Regions from separate parts of the Homo sapiens genome. Here region 2 is linked to region 1. Evidence: fine-mapped expression QTL. A gene starts in region 1. The other region holds a variant in brackets. All regions are shown on one strand. Distances are between the middles of the regions. Region 1 holds the start of AKAP1 (A-kinase anchoring protein 1). Region 2 overlaps AKAP1 (A-kinase anchoring protein 1).

The links. PIP is the estimated chance that this variant, and not a neighbour inherited with it, causes the effect.
Region 2: its variant is fine-mapped to the expression of AKAP1 in subcutaneous fat (TwinsUK, PIP 0.95).

Annotation. Positions count from the first base shown.
Region 1 is chr17:57,080,799-57,089,602 of GRCh38, reverse strand. It overlaps AKAP1 (A-kinase anchoring protein 1), which reads right to left and starts at 4,357. Exons shown (of 11, transcript NM_003488.4): 1 at 4,205-4,357. AKAP1-DT (AKAP1 divergent transcript) reads left to right here and starts at 4,565. Exons shown (of 3, transcript NR_186437.1): 1 at 4,565-4,763. RefSeq lists silencers at 3,311-3,400, 3,681-3,980, 4,021-4,600 and enhancers at 3,279-3,781, 4,821-4,900.
Region 2 is chr17:57,106,171-57,114,974 of GRCh38, reverse strand. AKAP1 (A-kinase anchoring protein 1) reads right to left here. Exons shown (of 11, transcript NM_003488.4): 2 at 7,797-8,804; 3 at 4,817-4,950; 4 at 3,051-3,177; 5 at 2,357-2,484; 6 at 339-516. Among named protein-coding and RNA genes, the nearest start is that of AKAP1, 25 kb to the right of the region's middle. RefSeq lists a silencer at 613-907 and an enhancer at 5,505-6,106. The variant G/C (reference allele first, on the strand shown) is at 3,963.

The sequences.
Region 1 (8,804 bases):
GCCGGCGCTGTCCAACAAAACTTTCTTCGATTATGGAAAATGTTCTTGACCTGTACTGACCAGGACGGCAGCCACTAGCTACACGAGGCCACTGAGAACCTGAAATGTGGCTAATGTCACTAAGAAATTTTTTTAAAAATACTTTGAAAAGTTTAATTAGTCACACAGCTAGCAGCTACCCTACAGACAAGGCAGCTCTAAACTCCCCACACCCAGGACAAATTTAGGCAAATAAAGCTATCTTTAAAAATAAAAAATATTTAGAACAGTAGCACACCTTAGAGCTAAGAACTTGAGATGAACAGTGAGTTGTTTTTTTTCCCCTTAAGTCTTTGACATGTACTACCCATTGAGCTGTGCTCCCCAGCCCAAACACATCACTCCAGTGGCCCCTGGGCACGTTTGGTCTAACTCCAAGGCTCCCAGGACCATAATCTGAATACTGATAATTTTGACCAAACCTCTTTTAGCCACTGAATAAACCAAGATCTGGAAGGCCAACCAGCCTGCCTAGAATCACCGCCAGGTTTCAGCTCTGAGAGCTGCAGCAAGTCCCAGGCTCTTGTCAGCTAAGCCCAGCAGTGAAACAAGCCTCATCAGCCCTAGGTTATACATATTTTTACTTCCAGGACTCACCTCAGGGCCCTTCTTTGCTCCCAAGTGCAACTGGGCCTTAGTGACACCTGGCTCGGTGAACACAACCAGCCACCATTACAGAACAGGGAACACAATGTTTACCACTGACTGCTGCAAACTATCAAACCAAGCCGGAAAAACAACCAGATGGTGAAGACCCGGACAGAATGTGGACAAGGCTGCACCATTTAGTAAAATGAAAAAGTTAAGGCAAAGGACACCTTGAAAGCTATTTATTGCTGGAAAGCTAGTTCTCAGAATGCTGAATGATAACACACACAATGTTAACAATCTACTTAGAAAGCAGCAGAAAGATTAGGAGAAAAGCCCAGGGATTTAAGAATATTCCTTGGTTCTTCTCACAAAAGCCATCCAGAGGACCTAGTTTTAACTCCACACCCACGCTTCCTAGTTCCTCTACCCCTCAATTTGAATTTGTGTGACAGCCACTGAAACAATCCAGAATGACCTCCAGCTTCACCCTCACTGTTCTCAGAGGTGTGAGGATTAAAGGATTAGTGTGCTCATAACTCACCTAGCACAGTAACTATCAAGAAAGAGGCATCCTCTCAAGTTTAGCTCCCAGCTCCCCCACTACCTGTTTCTCCAGCCAGACTCTGTCCTACTTCAAACATGCTCACTGATGATGTTTTCCACAGCCCAAGCTTCAAATTAGGTACCAAGGCCAGGAGGTTCCTTCAGTGGGATGCCACATGTGATGGGAACTTAATGTTAAATGATCATAAAAGTGAAAACTGCCTGAGGTATTACACCAGGAAGGAACATGGAAGAAACAGAACTTGCCCTAAGAAGCAAGATTTAGGACTAAAATACACCCCCCACCATAAAGATGAGCAACTCTCAAACAGTATATGAGATGATTTCAATGGGACAAGATGCCCACAGGATCTACTACCTCCCCATAGTGGAAGAAAACGCCTGAGAATGACAAGCTGAAGGTATTAACTCATACCTGAAACAACTGACTTCCCCACAATAGGAAAACAGACCAAGCTACAGAAAGGCCCAATCATTCAGACTCACAGGGAAGATTAGGAAGGAGTGACCTAGGGGAACTCTACGGCCAGCTCTCTGGGTACATTGGCTACAAGCTGCCTGCTCTTCAAAGCCCTGAAATGCACACACAATCAAGTCATGTTGCAGGCTGGGAGCAGGAGGCTAGCCAGCAAAGCTTAGGGAAACCAATTCGTTTTTCCTCCCAAACAAGCTTCTGGGTCAGAGGCTAAGGAGAGGGGTGCTTTTAATAGAATTCAAGTCACTCAAGTAATTCAAGAGAAACAAAGTCAGTCTCAGGGATTGTTCAGGGAGGAGAGGGGAAGAGCAATGCTTAAGCACCTATCACAGTCCCCAGTATCACAAATATGATCTCCATTTGTCTTTAGGACAGGAAAAGGGAATACTGTAGAGGCTAACACCAGCCTTCCCCTAAAATATGGCTGCAACCCAGCCTATGTCCAAAGCTCAAGAATAATTTGGGTTACCAGGCAGCAAGATAAATTGCTTTTAAATATTGATGTTCAGCAACCTTACACTGGAGACATATCGACTTCAGCACCTGAGCAGGCCACTTACAACAGACACCTCCACTGTCACCCTGCAGTGGCCAAGTGAGAATGCATTTCCTAGAAACAACTGGGAGATGGGAGAGATATTCCTACAAGGAACTAGACCTAGACACAAATCCATTAGACCTGTCTCACTCATTGGCTAGGATCTGTTACCTGCAAGTTCTGAGCCATCATCTGACAACATGCATGAAGACAGAGCCTATTAATCCAGTAATGGACTCAAGCTTTAGTGATTTGCATGCCTGTAGGATCCAGAGGACCTCCTCTAACCTAGGGCCATATTTCAAAGAGAATACACCCAAGAATTATGCAGAACCTACAAAACTAGTTAGAGGTTAAAGAAAAGTTCAACACAAGTCAAAAGGTTCCCAAAACATAACTTCACTTGCTTCCAGTGCTCAGGGTCTTAAATAATCAGCAGGTGAACCACTTCAATGCCAAGATCAGAGGAATTATATAAATGATCAAGTCAGGCAGCCTTCTTCATTTCAAAGATGTTCTGTACCTTTAAGAGCAAAGTGGATGGGTGGTGCTAAGAGTCCAAGCTTTGCTTTCTAAATAAAGAGTTAAAAAAAAAAAAGGTACTAATTTGGGAAGGACTTAGCAGTTACAAGAGCTTGTAAGGCTACTAGTTGCCAGAATTAATAGCTTTTTGTGAACGGTGTTCCTTGATCAGTAACTAACAGATACTGTTGCACCAGGTCCAGCAGCCTAGATTTCACTGGAGACAAATCTAAACACGAAGTAACGCGCACTACAGTAGGGGAAAGATACCCAGGTTAACCTCACTAATTGCCCTGCGCATACACCCTACCCAGCTTGAGAGGCCTCGACTCGCACCTGGAGCGAAGTCCACCGGGTTTGTGTTAACGGCGGCAGGAAGGCGCCGCCACCCAGGACATCCCCCAGGAGAGGAAGATCCCGAAACGCCCAGGGCTCCCATGCCGTTCCGAGTCGCCACAGCACCGCCTACCACGATCAGCACCTTTCTTCTCCTATCCCTCCCTGGAAGGGAAACAGGAAGACCTTCAGCTAGGGCACAAAAGAGTTGAACGCCAGAAAGCCCGCGTTCGAGGCATCCAGCCACTGCCTCTCCTAGCACATCGTAACCCCAAAACTGGCGCGGTCCCTCCAGATCGCAGACCCCGGGCCCTGGGCCGCAGGCGGGGCCGGACACGTGACCGTCGGGGCCCCCGGGCGTGAGGTCGGCAGACACCCCAGGCTGGACGGCCTCCACCCCTCCGGACACGCCTGCAGGGGCTACGAATGCAAATTCCCCCCGAGACGCCCCTGAGCCTCCGACCTCCAGACCCCAATTCGGTTCGAACGGTCCCTCAGCCCGAAACACGGTTGGATCACAACCGGCCGATGTCCCGGCCCATCTTCCCAGTTCCCCTGGCTCGCCGCACGGAACTCCCAGGGGCTGCGCCGGCGGGCGAGCCGAGGGTGAGAAGTTGGGCGAGGCTCCAGAAGTGAAGGGGCAGCTCCGGCTCAGACTGTGTACACACGACCTTTGAAAAGTAAACGCCCGCGGGGCTGGGCGACCTTGGGTGGGACGCGCTCGGGTCAGCCTCGCAGGCGGGTGTGCACGCTCCGGTTAAGTTGAGGTGCAGAGAGGCGACCCGGGCGTCGCGCCCTCGCCCCCCGCCCCCGAGGACAGTGACGCGCGTGGGGAGGACGGCGCGGCCGCAGAGCGCCGCCCAGAGCCGCGCACACGCGATCTGTCAGGAGCCCGCGGGCAGACAACCGGCGGGGAAGGACGAGAGGGGGCGCAGACGAGGGAGGGAAAGATGGGCCTGCCTGACAGCGCGCGGCGGCCGAGAGCCCCCAGGACACCTCTGCGTCCGGAGCGTCCCGCCCCCGGGGTACCTGGAGGGCGCGTCGCACCCTGCACCTGCACCTCAGGCTCCCCATCGCCCCGACCCCGCCGCCTTCGGGTCTCCGGCAGGGGGTCCCCGGCGCAGCTGCCCCCGACCTACCAGCTCCTCGGCTACCATCGGGGTGCGGGATGCGGAGTCCGCGCGCCGCCGCCGGCCCCCGGCTGTGCCCCGCGGCCCGGCCCGCAGCGCCGCGCTTCCGCAGCTCCCCCACGTGCTAGCCCAGGCGGGTGGAACACAGAGACATTAAATACTGAAGACGCGCGGCGACGTGCCCGCAGCGCGACGCAGGCCCCGCCCCTCGCCCTTGTGCCCGCGCGCTCCCGAGCCCGCCCCGCTCACCTGCGCGTGCGCGCCGCCGGCCGCTCCCGGCAGTGCCTCCGCCGCGCCTCTCCCAGCTGCGCCAGAGGGGGCGCGGTCTACAGCGCTGGGCTAACATCCCGCCGCCGCCCGGAGCCGGGTCTTGCTCGCGCTCTCGCGAGAGAGCCGTCATCTCTCCGGTGCCCGGGAGAGGGGCCGGGCGGGACGGTACAGCAACCGGAGGAACCTTGATTCCCTGCCCCGCAAGCCCAGCACCGGTTTTGCCGCCTTGTCTCGAAGGGTCAACCAGGCCATCTCCTGCCTCGGGACGGAGAGCGCCCTGGAAAAGGCGGAGGGGCCGGTGAGGAGCAGGGCTTCCCTCGCTTCGGGGCTTTGAGCTTCCCTGTGACCGTCATTTCCTTGTAGCGTATAATTGGGTTGGCCATTAATAATTGCTCGATAACTGCATAATGGTGAAACCTGGTACCACTCAAATGCAACTTTCTTGCTCGTTTTCACAAGTCGATGTTATCGAAATGAAGCACTTTTCTCTGAATTGGTGTGGGTTTTGGAATGATTTTTGCAGAGATAGTCACGGTGAGTCACTATCTCTGCCAGGACCTTGGGAAAATAAATTCCTCCAAAATAAATGGAGAGGGTAGGGTTTTGGCTGTCCAGCCCTGCTGTCATCCTTAAAACAAAGTGACTTTAAATGAACATTTGTTTGGCCAAAATATAGAAAATAGATCATGCTAAGAACTAACAATTACTTGGGAAAATGCTTAATCTTCACTAGTGATCAAATGCAAGTTTAAATGACAGATGCCATTTACTATACCTAATGAGATTTAAGTCAAATTCATATATATATGAATCCCAATTGCATGGTGTGGTAGATGTCAGGAAGGAAACAAATAGGAAACTGACATAGGAAAGAAAGAAAAAGAGCCCTATTTTTTATTTTTTTTTTTTTGTGAGACGGAGTCTTGCTCTGTCGCCCAGGCTGGAGTGCAGTGGCACGATCTCGGCTCACTGCAAGCTCCGCCTCCCAGGTTCACGCCATTCTCCTGCCTCAGCCTCCCGAGTAGCTGGGACTACAGGCGCCTGCCACCACGCCCGGCTAATTTTTTGTATTTTTAGTAGAGATGGGGTTTCACCGTGTTAGCTAGGATGGTTTCGATCTCCTGACGTCGTGATCCGCCCGCCTTGGCCTCCCAAAGTGCTGGGATTACAGGCGTGAGCCACCGCGCCCGGCCAAAAAGAGCCCAAATGTTTTAGGTCCTGTGGTCAGAAAAGGCCTAAAATGAAATTTAAACTGAGACCCATTGGATGAGAAGGAACCAGCCTTGCAAATTGTATACGGGCATAAGGGTTGGAGGAGTATTCCTAGCAGATGCACAACACAGGAAAAAGCAGGAAACAACTTCTGGTAAACTGGAAGACCAGTGTGGATGGTATGTATTGAGGGAGGGAGTGTCAGGAAAGGAGATAAAGAGGATCGTTTCTTGTCTTTGTTTTTTGGGGGAATAGGGGCCTGGGCTGCCTTAGTAAATACTTAGTATTTGCCATAGTAAATAGTGAAGCTTGGATTTTATTCTATTCTGTTCAGTCCCAAAGCCAGTCATGACTCTACCTCAGGGCCTCCCTCCACATGGAATATTCTGCAAAGCTCACTGTCTTCACCTCTTTCAAGTCCTTTGCTCAAAGGTCACCTACTCAGACTCAGTGAAGTCTTCCCTGGACTCTCTGTTTTATTTTATTTTTTATTTTTTGAGGAGTCTCTGTCACCCAGGCTGGAGTGCAGTGGTGCGATCTCAGCTCACTGCAACCTCCACCTACCAGGTTCAAGCGATTCTCCTCCCTCAGCCGCCAGAGTAGTCCCACTACAGGCACGTGGCACCATGCCCAGCTAAAATTTTTTGTATTTTTAGTAGAGACAGGGTTTCACCATGTTGGTCAGGCTGGTCTCATACTCCTAACCTTAGGTGATCTGTCCGCCTCGGCCTCCCAAAGTGCTGGGATTACAGACGTGAGCCACCGTGCCTGGCCTGGACTCTCTTTTAAATTGTAAACACACACACACACACACACACACACACACACACACACTCTCTCTCTCTCTCTCTCTCCCCATCCCTCACCCCATCTTTCCTTCATAACCCTTACCCCTGTCTAGACTTCATTTATTTCATGAGGGCAGGGATTTTTGAGGGCCTGGTACATAGAGGGTGTTCAGTAAAAATGTGTTTCGTGAATGAATAGGAAGCTATTAAAGAGGGTTAAGTAGAGAGTGACATAATTTCTGTTTTTAAAAGCAAGCTGTAGCTGCTGTGGGAAGAACAGATTAGAGAGAGATCAGTGTCGAATCAGGGAGAGTAGTGAAAGAGGATGCTGGACGTGGTTCAGGTAAGAAATGATGCTAGTTTGAGCTAAGGATTATGGCTCTGGGGATGAAGACACTGCTTTGGACTTAAGATATATTTTGAAAGAGGAGCAGACTTACTCATGTTGTTGGTGGTAAAGAAAAAGGAACAATGAATGCAATGAATGATGATTCTTCTGGCTTGAGTTACAATGTGAACTGGGGTGCAATTTCCTGAGAAGGAGAAATCTGAAGGCAGAGAAGTGTTGGTTTCATTTTTGACCCATTGTTTTTGTGACATCAAAGTATAAATAGTAATTAGGTTGGATATGCAAGTCTGGAGCTCAGAGGAGTGGTCTGAATGGGAAATACAAATATGGTTTGAAAATCATGTTTAAAAAGATATATTAAAGACAATGCTAGGCCGGGCACGGTGGCTCACACCTATAATCACAGCACTTTGGGAGGCTGAGGCCGGTGGATCACGAGGTCAGGAGTTCAAGACTAGCCTGGCCAACATGGTGAAATCCTGTCTCTACTAAAAATACAAAAGTTAGCCAGGCATGTTGTGCACCTGTAATCCCAGCTACTCGGGAGGCTGAGGCAGGAGAATCACTTGAACCTGGGGGTCAGAGGTTGCAGTGAGCTGAGATCGCATCACTGCACTCCAGCCTGGGTGACAGAGCAAGATTCCATCTCGGGGAAAAAAAAAAAAAAAAAGGAAAAAAAAAAAAGGCAATGCTTAGCAGTAGTGGAGGTAGGAATAGAAAGAAACTGAGAAAATGATGTCCAGGGATGTAAGCCCTGGAAGCATTGGTAGGAAAGAAAAACAGGAAGATGGAAGGAGTAAAACAGCGAGATGGGGCTATGAATATGGTTATGAGAAAGAAGGACAAAGACCGGCGGTGAATGAGAGAAATATGTCAGTCATACCCGATGCAAGGGGACATGGGCACAGCCTGCCAGAAAAAAGGAATGAGGGAAGAAAAGAGGAGTGTGTTAACTGGAATACTAGAGAAAGTGCAAGATACAAGTCAAAGGGGGAAAGGTGAGAAAATAGGATTGACTACAATCACCATTAGACCTCAACCCAGTACCTGTGGCTGAGGAAGTATCCACAAGGTCTGAACAGTTCCAAGGTCACCACGGTGGCCCTAATATAAGATTAGAAAGTAGAGGAATGAGAAGAGAGGTGAGGGTGGAAGGTGATCCTAAGAACTTGGCCATGAGGAAAATAAGATAAGGTTGTTAGGCTTCAGCTTTGTCAGCTCAAAAATGGGCAAGGTCTGCCTAAGGCAGGAATTTTAACCTAGGATGCATAGGAATTTAACCTGGGACATCAAGGTTGTCCACAACACCCTGAAATCATTTGCATGATCTTATAAATACGGCATTTTTTTCGGTACAGATTAGTTATGGATCATTTCTATCAGACTCTAATCCTGACCTTAACAACAACAACAACAAATTAGAATCTGGTGAATAGAGCAAAACATTTTATCCAGAAAGGAGTATGTCAGTCAGAATAAGAAGGTAAAAAATAAAAGTATTCGAAGGAGACCAAAAAAATAAAAATAAAAATAAAAATAGAAGAAGTAGTAAGTGTCTGTGAAAGGAAGAAGGTGTCCAATCTCATTTAATCAAGAAGCTGGGCTCTCTGAGAAGTCAAACCAGTCAGATCTGAACCCAATGCTATTATTCATTTAAATTCTATGACCCAAGCCCCTCACTCTGACTCTGTACCCACCCAGCAGCCTTCTGATCATTCTCACTAAGGAGAGAAGCCATGATCGGACTGATGAAAGGCACTGGTCCACCAATGACATTTTTATCATTATAAATTACATAACCTACCCTCTCTCATTTTCTGTATCTTGTACATCATGTGAATATTTTTAGTATGAGTCAGCTTTCAGTTCTGGGACTTGAACATGGTGAAGTTTCTGAACCTGTTTTAAAGCTAAGTGAGGGCTTGACACAGGACCATGGGAAAATCCATCAAGGTAAATGCCACCTTGTGAGTCTCTTTTTAAAAGGTAG
Region 2 (8,804 bases), 25 kb before region 1:
GGTATCACCCCCTTTAACAGATAATAAATAGGTGGCAGATACTATGACACTGGCTTTGAGGGAAAAAAAAAAGAAAAAATTAAAAAAAAAAATTAGTGGCAGAGCTGGGATCTGAATCCCTGTGTCAAAACTCTACTCCAACACCCATCACTCTGCCAGCCAGTGGAAACCCCAGCTCTGCCTTGCCAGGAAACCCACCCCAGCTCCATAACAATGGCAAGAATTGAAGGATGCTGCTTCCATGAAGGATCGCAGAACAGCCTCCTCCTGATCAGGATCCAGGGCAGAACAGGCAACCCCAGGGGTCCCCCTTCCCGACCCCTCAGGGCACTGCTTACTTTCCACTGGGGTGGGCAAGGTGGGGATTCCAGGCTGAGAGTAACAGAGGTACATCTGCTGGTCGAGGCTGCGCAGCGCGTGGAAGGTAGGGTGTGTGTGCTGCTGCACGAACAGGTGCCCGGCATTGACCTGGTTGACCACAATGACCTCCACGGTGATGCCATCAGGCAGCATGAGCTGTAGAGGGGAAGGGGGAGCGGTCACTGAAACAATCCTTCTTATCTCATCTTTGAATAAGTCCCGAGACCCAAGGGCAAGTCTCTGGGCTAGCATATCTTTGAAAAGGGCAACTCAAGACAACATGGCACCCAGAAGGTAGAGGTTGAAGGACTACTTTAACAACAGAAAGTGTTCGACACCCCTGTGGCTGTTGTCCTGCAATACCACGAGCAGCCATTAGGGGCAGTCTCACCTCAGGGCCAGGCAGGGAGGGTCCCACAGACACTGGGCAACCAAGAAGCAACTGCGGAGGTAGTGCTGGGCCTTGCACAGGCCTGGGCAGGGTCCACCTACCAGCAGTGCCCTCCCTCCCACTTCTGTTGATGAATCTATAAGACCCAGGGAGGGCAACACAGGAATGAGGTGGCCGCTGAGAACAAGACTCCTGAAAATAAGCAGTAGGCAGGCCCCAGGCCCTTTAGCCAACTCCTGTGGACTGGCAGACAACCCCAGGAGCCTATGGTCTGACAGCATCTACGCTGCCCTCCCAAGAGCAAGCAGTGGCCTCAGGTCAGGTCCATGGTCAAGGTCTAGCAGAGTCTGCTTCCTATTTGCTCTCCCTCCTACTGCTTACCCTCCTGAGGTCAGGAGTTCAAGACCAGCCTGGCAAACATGGTGAAATCCCATCTCTACTAAAAACATACAAATTAGCTGGGCATGGTGGAGCACACCTGTAATCCCAGCTACTCAGGAGGCTGGGGCAGGATAATCGTTTGAACCTGGTGGGCAGAGGTTGCAGTGAGCCAAGATCATGCCACTACACTCCAGACTGGGCAACAGAGTGAGACTCTGTCTCAAAAAAAAAAAAAAAAAAAAAAAAAAGAGAGTGAGTCTACGACCGAGCCTCCTGGGAAAAAACTCTTGATTCAGGAGTAAAGCATAAAGTGGTATTCAGCCTACTCTCACATATCCACAGGAAAAAGATATCCCAATCCTTTCCCTCCAGCCCAAGGGCCTTTGCAAAGGGGAAGACACAAAACTGAAATGCCTACCATCCATAAAAAAACAAAAAAACAAAAAAAAAACACGAAGGAGGACAATTTCCTTGGAGCTATAGTCAGCCCATCTGTCCATCTGTGTAAAACGTAGTCAACAGTCGTTGGCCCACAGAATTCTGCAATTCTACTCCCAGTGAGATAAGACCCAACCAGGGCCAGAGGCACACGGCAGGATATGGGCCACGGCCCTGAGAGACCCTGCAGTCAGCAGCACACAGGGGCCCTGGAGATAGCAGCTCTTCCCTCTGCCAAACTCCTGGGGCAACCTCCCAAGAGTCACTGGACTTCCGGGCCTGGTGGGGAGTATTCATTCTTCTTTGTAATTTAGGCACCTCCTGGGGAGGGGAAGGGGAAGGAGATCCTTCACCAGGGCCACTGTTAAGGCCTGACTCAACCAGAAGAAAGAACAAGCGCCATCCAAACCCATGATTCTAGTCCCACCCAGGTCTCAGGTGGTGAACGGCGACCCTGGACACACCCAATCTCCTGTCCGAACTACACCATCCTTTCTAAGCAAACGCCTAGAAAACTTAAAAGGTGCCCAGGGGGAGAGCCAGGAAAAGTAGTCCTCCCATGTGGGGACCAAGAGGCCTCTGGTTTCCTGCCAGCGCTATCACCACCTAAGCCCTGTCCCCAGAACACAGTCCCATAGCAGAACCGACCAGCAGAGGCCAGAGAAGAGAGGGCGCAGGCACTCATGTGCACTTGGCCTTCTTAGCCTGAGGTCTGGGGAGTTTCTTGTTTGGGGTAGGTTTGGGGGAAAGTGGCAAGAAGTCCGGATCACCCAGTAGCACGCTCACCCAGGATGTCATCGGCAGAGAAGGCAGTGCCAGTGAAGGCAATGGGGGAGCGTAGATATTGGTGAGGTTCAGCTCTTTGAACTTCTTCCCAATCAAGTTCAGCGCTTTGTCTACATGATGTTGAGAGCCTAAATAGCGGATGGGGGCAGGACATACAATCACTGTAAGAGGAAACTCACACCCACACTCACAAAAACACAGCCACAGACCCCACTCCACTGGACTTTGCATAGAGTTCAAGTGCATCTTTGAGGTAACAAAACACTTAAGCTCTGCTTTAGGAAGAAAGGCATCTAAGCCTTTCAAATGATACCTCTGCCATTATGATCCATGCTTTCAATGCAACAGAAGAGGCAGGCAGCTGTGAAAATGCCAAGGGGGAATTGCACACAGGGCACTTCTGCTTTGAGAGAAGCCTTTATGGGGTGGTGGGCACTATGAACCCAGGACCCAGGCCCCGCCCAACCAAGCACCCACACTTCTCCTGGCCAAAGATCAGAGTAGGGAGGGACCTGAGTCTCCCGCAGGCACCTGAAATGGGGAAAAGGCTGCAGGGAAGATACCTAATGCTCCCTTCCCTGGGATGAGAAGCAGGGTTTCCTATTCCAAAAAGATAGCAATTGAAACTCAGATGCTATTCACTTCTATTTAATATTTCAGGTAAGAGGCAATACAAGCAGCAGATGTTACTGACCTTCTATGTGGCAGATCTGGACGCTCTGGGTGTAAGGCAGGGTTGAAATGTAGATCTTGGCACCAGATGTTTGCTTCAGAAAACTCACATAGCGCCCCTGCTTGCCAATTAGCCGACCGACTAAGTGCTTCCAGAAAGACAAAAAGAGATGAGAGGGTTAAAGGGAAACCAATTCCCTGGACACCCAAAGACCTACTTCTGTTTTACACAAGATCATGCTCAAACATATTAGCTGTTACCATGTCAGCATTTATTTTCCAGGACTATTCTAAGCACTTACATTTACTCATAGTACCTGTGAAACACAGATAACTTTATCACCATTCTGTATATGGGGAAACAAGCCCAGAGAGGCTAAGTAACTACCTTAAGGTCACACAGCTGCTAACCAGGAAGTCGAACCAGGCAGTCTGGCTCCAGGACCAAGCAGTTCCCATTTCATCCCAACAATGTGGCCCAGACCCGGAAAGCTGCAAAGGCAGCAGCATCTTCTCCTCTAAAAGCCATGCTGAGAAGTTTCACCAGCACACAGTTTCTCGATTTCTCGTGCCCCTCTCCCTCAAGTCTACTCAGATCCAAAGATAAAGGGGCTCGATTTGAAAATGAAGGTCTAAGAACCCTGGGCTCCCGCTGCCAAGTGACAGCAGGCTGAAGCCTGCAGAGCAGGAGGCATGCAGAAGTGCCCAGTGCGCCAGAGTTCAAGGCAGATAGAAGCAGCCAAACTTAGCCCTTACGTAAGATGGGCTCCCACACAACCGCCAACGACCCCCTCCCGGAGGAGCTACTGGGGACATGGTCCATCCTCAGGCACAGCCTTTCTCTTCATGCCCTTTGTAACCACTGAAGGAAAAGCAGGCAGGACGGATAACAGGGCCCCCCAGGGAGGAAACCACCAAGAGACCTCGCAACCCA[G/C]GGTCAAAACAGCCACTCTGACCCAGAGTTCAGACCAAGCCAAGTCTCCACCTGAGCACAGAGCCCAGGGCCCTGGGAGAATGCGGTCTGACAAATTATTTCTGAGCCCCAGAGATAAACATCAAGATCAAGCTAATATGTTGTAAGTTCTAATAGCAAGAAGCTCGAAACCACTTAAGCACTCAGGAATGGGGGACTGATGAAGTAAACTGACATCCACACAGTGAATAATGCAGTTACAGTTACATTTTCAAAGAATAACACACGAAAATTAAATTGTTAAATATTTAAAGTATTAATTAAAGCGACATAATCTCAGTTTTGTTTAAAAACCACAGGGTGCAAGATGAGAAGGAAATAAAAGTCTTTCACAGTCACTCTCAAGGGTAGGATTAGAGCTGATTTTTATTTTCTGCATGTATTTCTATACTTTTCAAGTTCTCTAAAATATGGATTTATGCTTTGCTCAATTATAAAATACACTTGGAGCACTTGAGCAGAGCTCAGTGAAGGGATTCTGGCTGGCCCCCACGGCCTTGGTGTTTTTTTTCCAAATAGATCTGAGCCCCAGAATATGCAAGAACCACCCCCAAGGGAGACACACAGGCCTGCGAGTTTGAGAAGTACAAGAATAAGATGCTCCTGGAGGCAGCTGGAGGAATTCCATGTTGCAGGAAGCTCTCTGAGCCTTGGCAAAGTGTAGCGTGTCCTTTCCCTGCGGCCTTTGGCTGACCCAGGGCTCCTTCTGGTTTACTGTCCCTCTCCCAGCCCCCTCCCTCCCTGAGGTCTAATGGCCCTGGCCCCAGGGAGCTTTGGGCTTACCACAGAACCAGCCTGGGGGACTCCGCCCCTACCTTTGGCACCTCGATCTCCCAGATGATGAGGTCGACCTTCTTAGGGTTGGAGCCTGCCTGGGCATTTTGGAAGCTCTCAGTCTTCTTGAGACTGCAACAGCTATCCACGGAATCCATGCTGTTCCTGTCAGAACCTGCAGGGGAAGAAGCAGCAGGCACGCACACACACAGACCCCACTCAGAGCAGCCAGTAACCAAGAACTTCCCAAACTCACATTCCCAGGAGGCCCTGCCCCACACCCGCTCCTCAAGCTTGGCAGGTGACTGTCAACTTACAGTCTAGAAGGCTCAGAACAACCCCAATGAAAGGAGAACTGGGGGTGTCGATACACCTAATTTTAGCCTGTCACTTACAGTCCCACTTGCTTAATTGGCAGCCGCACCCAGCCACAGCTGCTGGAGCAGAGACACAAGTGGTGAACTTGGAAGAGACAGACTGCGCCCAGGGAAGGGGAGCCCAGAGGGCGGGGGAGGAGACACGCTTGAGGTCCACATGGTCCTGAGAGCCAGACCGATGGACCACAAACACCTTGACACCCTTCCAACTATCCTACCCCCTCAGACCAAGGGTCAGTCTCCTGTCCCCAGGGCCCAGTCCCAGGGTCATAGGTACTGGCCTTCAGCCCAGCAGAGCTAGACAAAGTCCTCACTGGCCTGCCTGAGGGCCCCATTCTTATACCTAGCGGGGACCCGCTCGTTCCTCTGCCATATGTGGACTAAAAAAGGAGAGTCTCCTTTCCCTTTGCTTAGGCCTGATTCATGCAACTCTGAACACTCTTCTGGCTCAAATACTCCCTTGGTCAAAAGACTGAGCCAAAGCTCATGCCCAAGAAAACCCAATGGGAACAGACTCTGCTCCCGACCTGGGCTGTTCCACTCTCACTCAAGAGCGTGCCAAAGGGACCGTCACAAAAAAGCGGGTCCAGATCAGCTCAAGAGAAGTGGCCCTGGCTTAAATATGGATGACTCAATCACCAGAAATAGATCACTCCTGAGAGTCTACCAATTAGGTTACCTTCCACATGGTTTCTCCAAACCCTGAGTATAATCCTTTGCCAAGTAACCCATACACTGGATGCAGAGAACTAAGGCCCAAGAGATCCTGCTCCCAGCTAAGGAAGAATCACCTTCAAAATGACTTCCCCCCTTAACACTAGGCGCTTCGAACAGGATTCATGCAGGGAAAAGTACCCCTTCTGGGGGAAGACTGCTTGGCTAGCCTGCGGGAAGCATAACAGGCTGACAGGGGCTGGGCGAGGGGGCGGGGAGCTCTGCTCACTCACAGTATCCAGCCTCTGCCCCACAGAATGGGACTGGCTAACACCTGCCATCCCGATGGCTCCCAGCAGTGGCTCAGAACCACACCCGGACTCTAGCAGGCTGCACTCAAAGGCCAGCTTCCAGCTCCCTCAGTGGGGTGGTCCCTGGTCCCCTTCTCAGCTTCAACTTCCTCACAAACAAAGCAGGGCTGACATGAAGGTACATGCGAGGCACTAACCTCGTGCTTGGCACCCACCGCATGCTCGTGGACAGTATTACCTCATTTCCACGTGCCATCCCTAAACCTCCCTGCCCATCACCACGGCTTAGGTTCAAGCCTAAACTCAGAAGACTTCAACAGGTCTGAGTAGCTACTACTATCCATCTAGAGTTGGCAGACAAGGCTGCGGGGCTTGTTAATTCAGCTGAGGGGCAGTAAGCAAAGGGAAACTCCTTTATTCTTAAAAAATAAATAAAATAAAAATCACCCATTTTCAGATGCAGTATTTTAAGAAACATTTAAACATCCCGAGATTAGGATGCATCATATAGTATCTTGCCTTCTATAATCATGACTGGCAGCACTTTTTTCTTTCCAAGGTACATAAAAACAGTAGTGTCTTAACAGCATCTTGGAGGTGACAAAATGTAGCGTGTGGTACAAACTAGATGCTGCTGAAAGTGGTAAAATTCCCAATAAAGATTCCCAACCTACCCGGAGCTGAAATGGGAGGGAATGGCTCCAGGACAAACAAGTCAGAGAGCCACTCGGGATATTCGTGGCCTCTCTCCATGAGATAAATGAAAACACCCCAGGGTGCCTGCAGAAGCAGGGTCAGGAGCTGCTGACCTGTAAGTTAGCGGTCTGAACTGTCTACGCTGGGGTCAGCACTCGAAAAACCCAGGACACCTCGTTATCAAAGTGCCCCGCTTTCCCGGGGGTGGAGCTGCAACTGCACAGAAAGAAAATGGCTGAGGCTTTCTGCAAAGGTGACAGCGACAACTCAGGAAGCTCAAGCCTCCCACAAGTATTCAAAGCTGTGGCCGTTCTTTGGGCACTTACCCTGTAAGAGCTTCTGGAGAAGGAAAGCAGGTGAAGACATGGGAACAAGCACATGATTAAAAGGAAATAAAAACCATTCAAAACACTCACACCCATACCTGGCACTCAAGGGAAGTAAAGCTAAGGAGGCCTCTCCATTAAAACACACACACACACGCACACACAAAGAGGTTAGTGTTTAAAAAAGAAAAAAAAATGGGCTGGGCATAGTGACTCACACCTATAAACCCAGCACTCTGGGAGGCCGAGGGCGGAAGGATCACTTGAGCCCAGGAGTGCGAGACCAGCCTGGGCAACAAAGGAAGACTCCATCTGCACCAAAATAATAATAATTTTTTTAAACAAAGAAAAAGAGGCACACTAATGTTAATCAGCGAGCCCAACTTGGCGCTAGTTCCTTGGGAAGGGCTCACTGGGGAAGGTCACCGGTTGAGGAACCAAGTTACAGCTCCCATGACTTGGGGTTTCAGGGCAATCTAACTCCTCAGTTACCCACCAGCTCTACGCCGTGTCCAGACCTCTGCAGGTTGCGATAAAGAGCTGAAGAGCACTATGACTTTGCTGCACAAGTAGCAGAAGGGAGAGGCAGACTGGCAGCCTTTCTCCAAGAAATACTGGGAGCGCCCCATCCTCTAAACGAACCCGAGACCCTCCTACCTCCTGAATGATCTGCTTCCGCATCCATGGTCCATCCATCCTCAGCCCCCAAGTCTGACAACTCCCCCTTCAGCACCCCATTGCTGAAGGGCACAGTACTTTCTGGCAGTGGCGGGGTGATGGCCTTGTCCCTGGGGCTCGAGCTGGTCTCTGTGCAAGAGTCTTCAAGCCCTGAAGTGCTGAAAGAATCTGAGCAGTGTCCTGGAGAAGCCACCAAAGGGACACTTTGGCTGCTGTCTGACATGCAGGTGACACAGGTGGCATCTTCCACCAGGATGCCTGCCCGGTCCGGCAACTCTTCACTGGGGGTGGTCAGTGCCAGGCAGGAGGCCAGGGAGATGTGGTGTGCAGAGATATTTGGCTTACTGTCCTTGGTGGGGCTGGACAGAAGGCTCTTCAGGCAGCTCACGTAGGTCTTTGGTGGTGGTGAGCCCTCTGCTGGTAGGCCTGGCAAGGGGAGGCCAGCATCCGGCGGGGCAACAGCTGCCTCTGCTGTGGCAGGCTCCGCAGTGTCTGGGCCCAAGACAGTTTTCTGGTGAACTGGGACACAGCTCTCTTCCTTCTGCCCTTGGAGCTGACTGGCCTGACACACACGACCTGCAACCTTGCCAACCGTGGTGGCCAGCACCTGTTCGGTTGCTTCTGAGATCACTTGGGAGATTATCTGGAAGGCAGCCCGCTTAATCTCCTCATTTCTATCCAAGCCCTCCTCATTTCTATCCAAGCTCTCCTCATTTCTATCCAAGCCCTCCTCATTTCTATCCAAGCCCTCCTCATTTCTATCCAAGCTCTCCTCATTGCCCAGTTCTCCCTCGACACCTCTATCCTGGGCTTTGGCGTCTGCGACTGGGGGTGCTGGCGCCGCATCGTCCTTTGCCAGCTCTGTGTGAGCCGACTCGATGAACCTACTTGGCAACTTCTCTGCTACATACTCTTCCTCCTGCACTGGCCCCACCACCTGGGATGAGCTGCTCTTCCCCTTATCTTCTTCCCCCTCTAAAGAGGCCA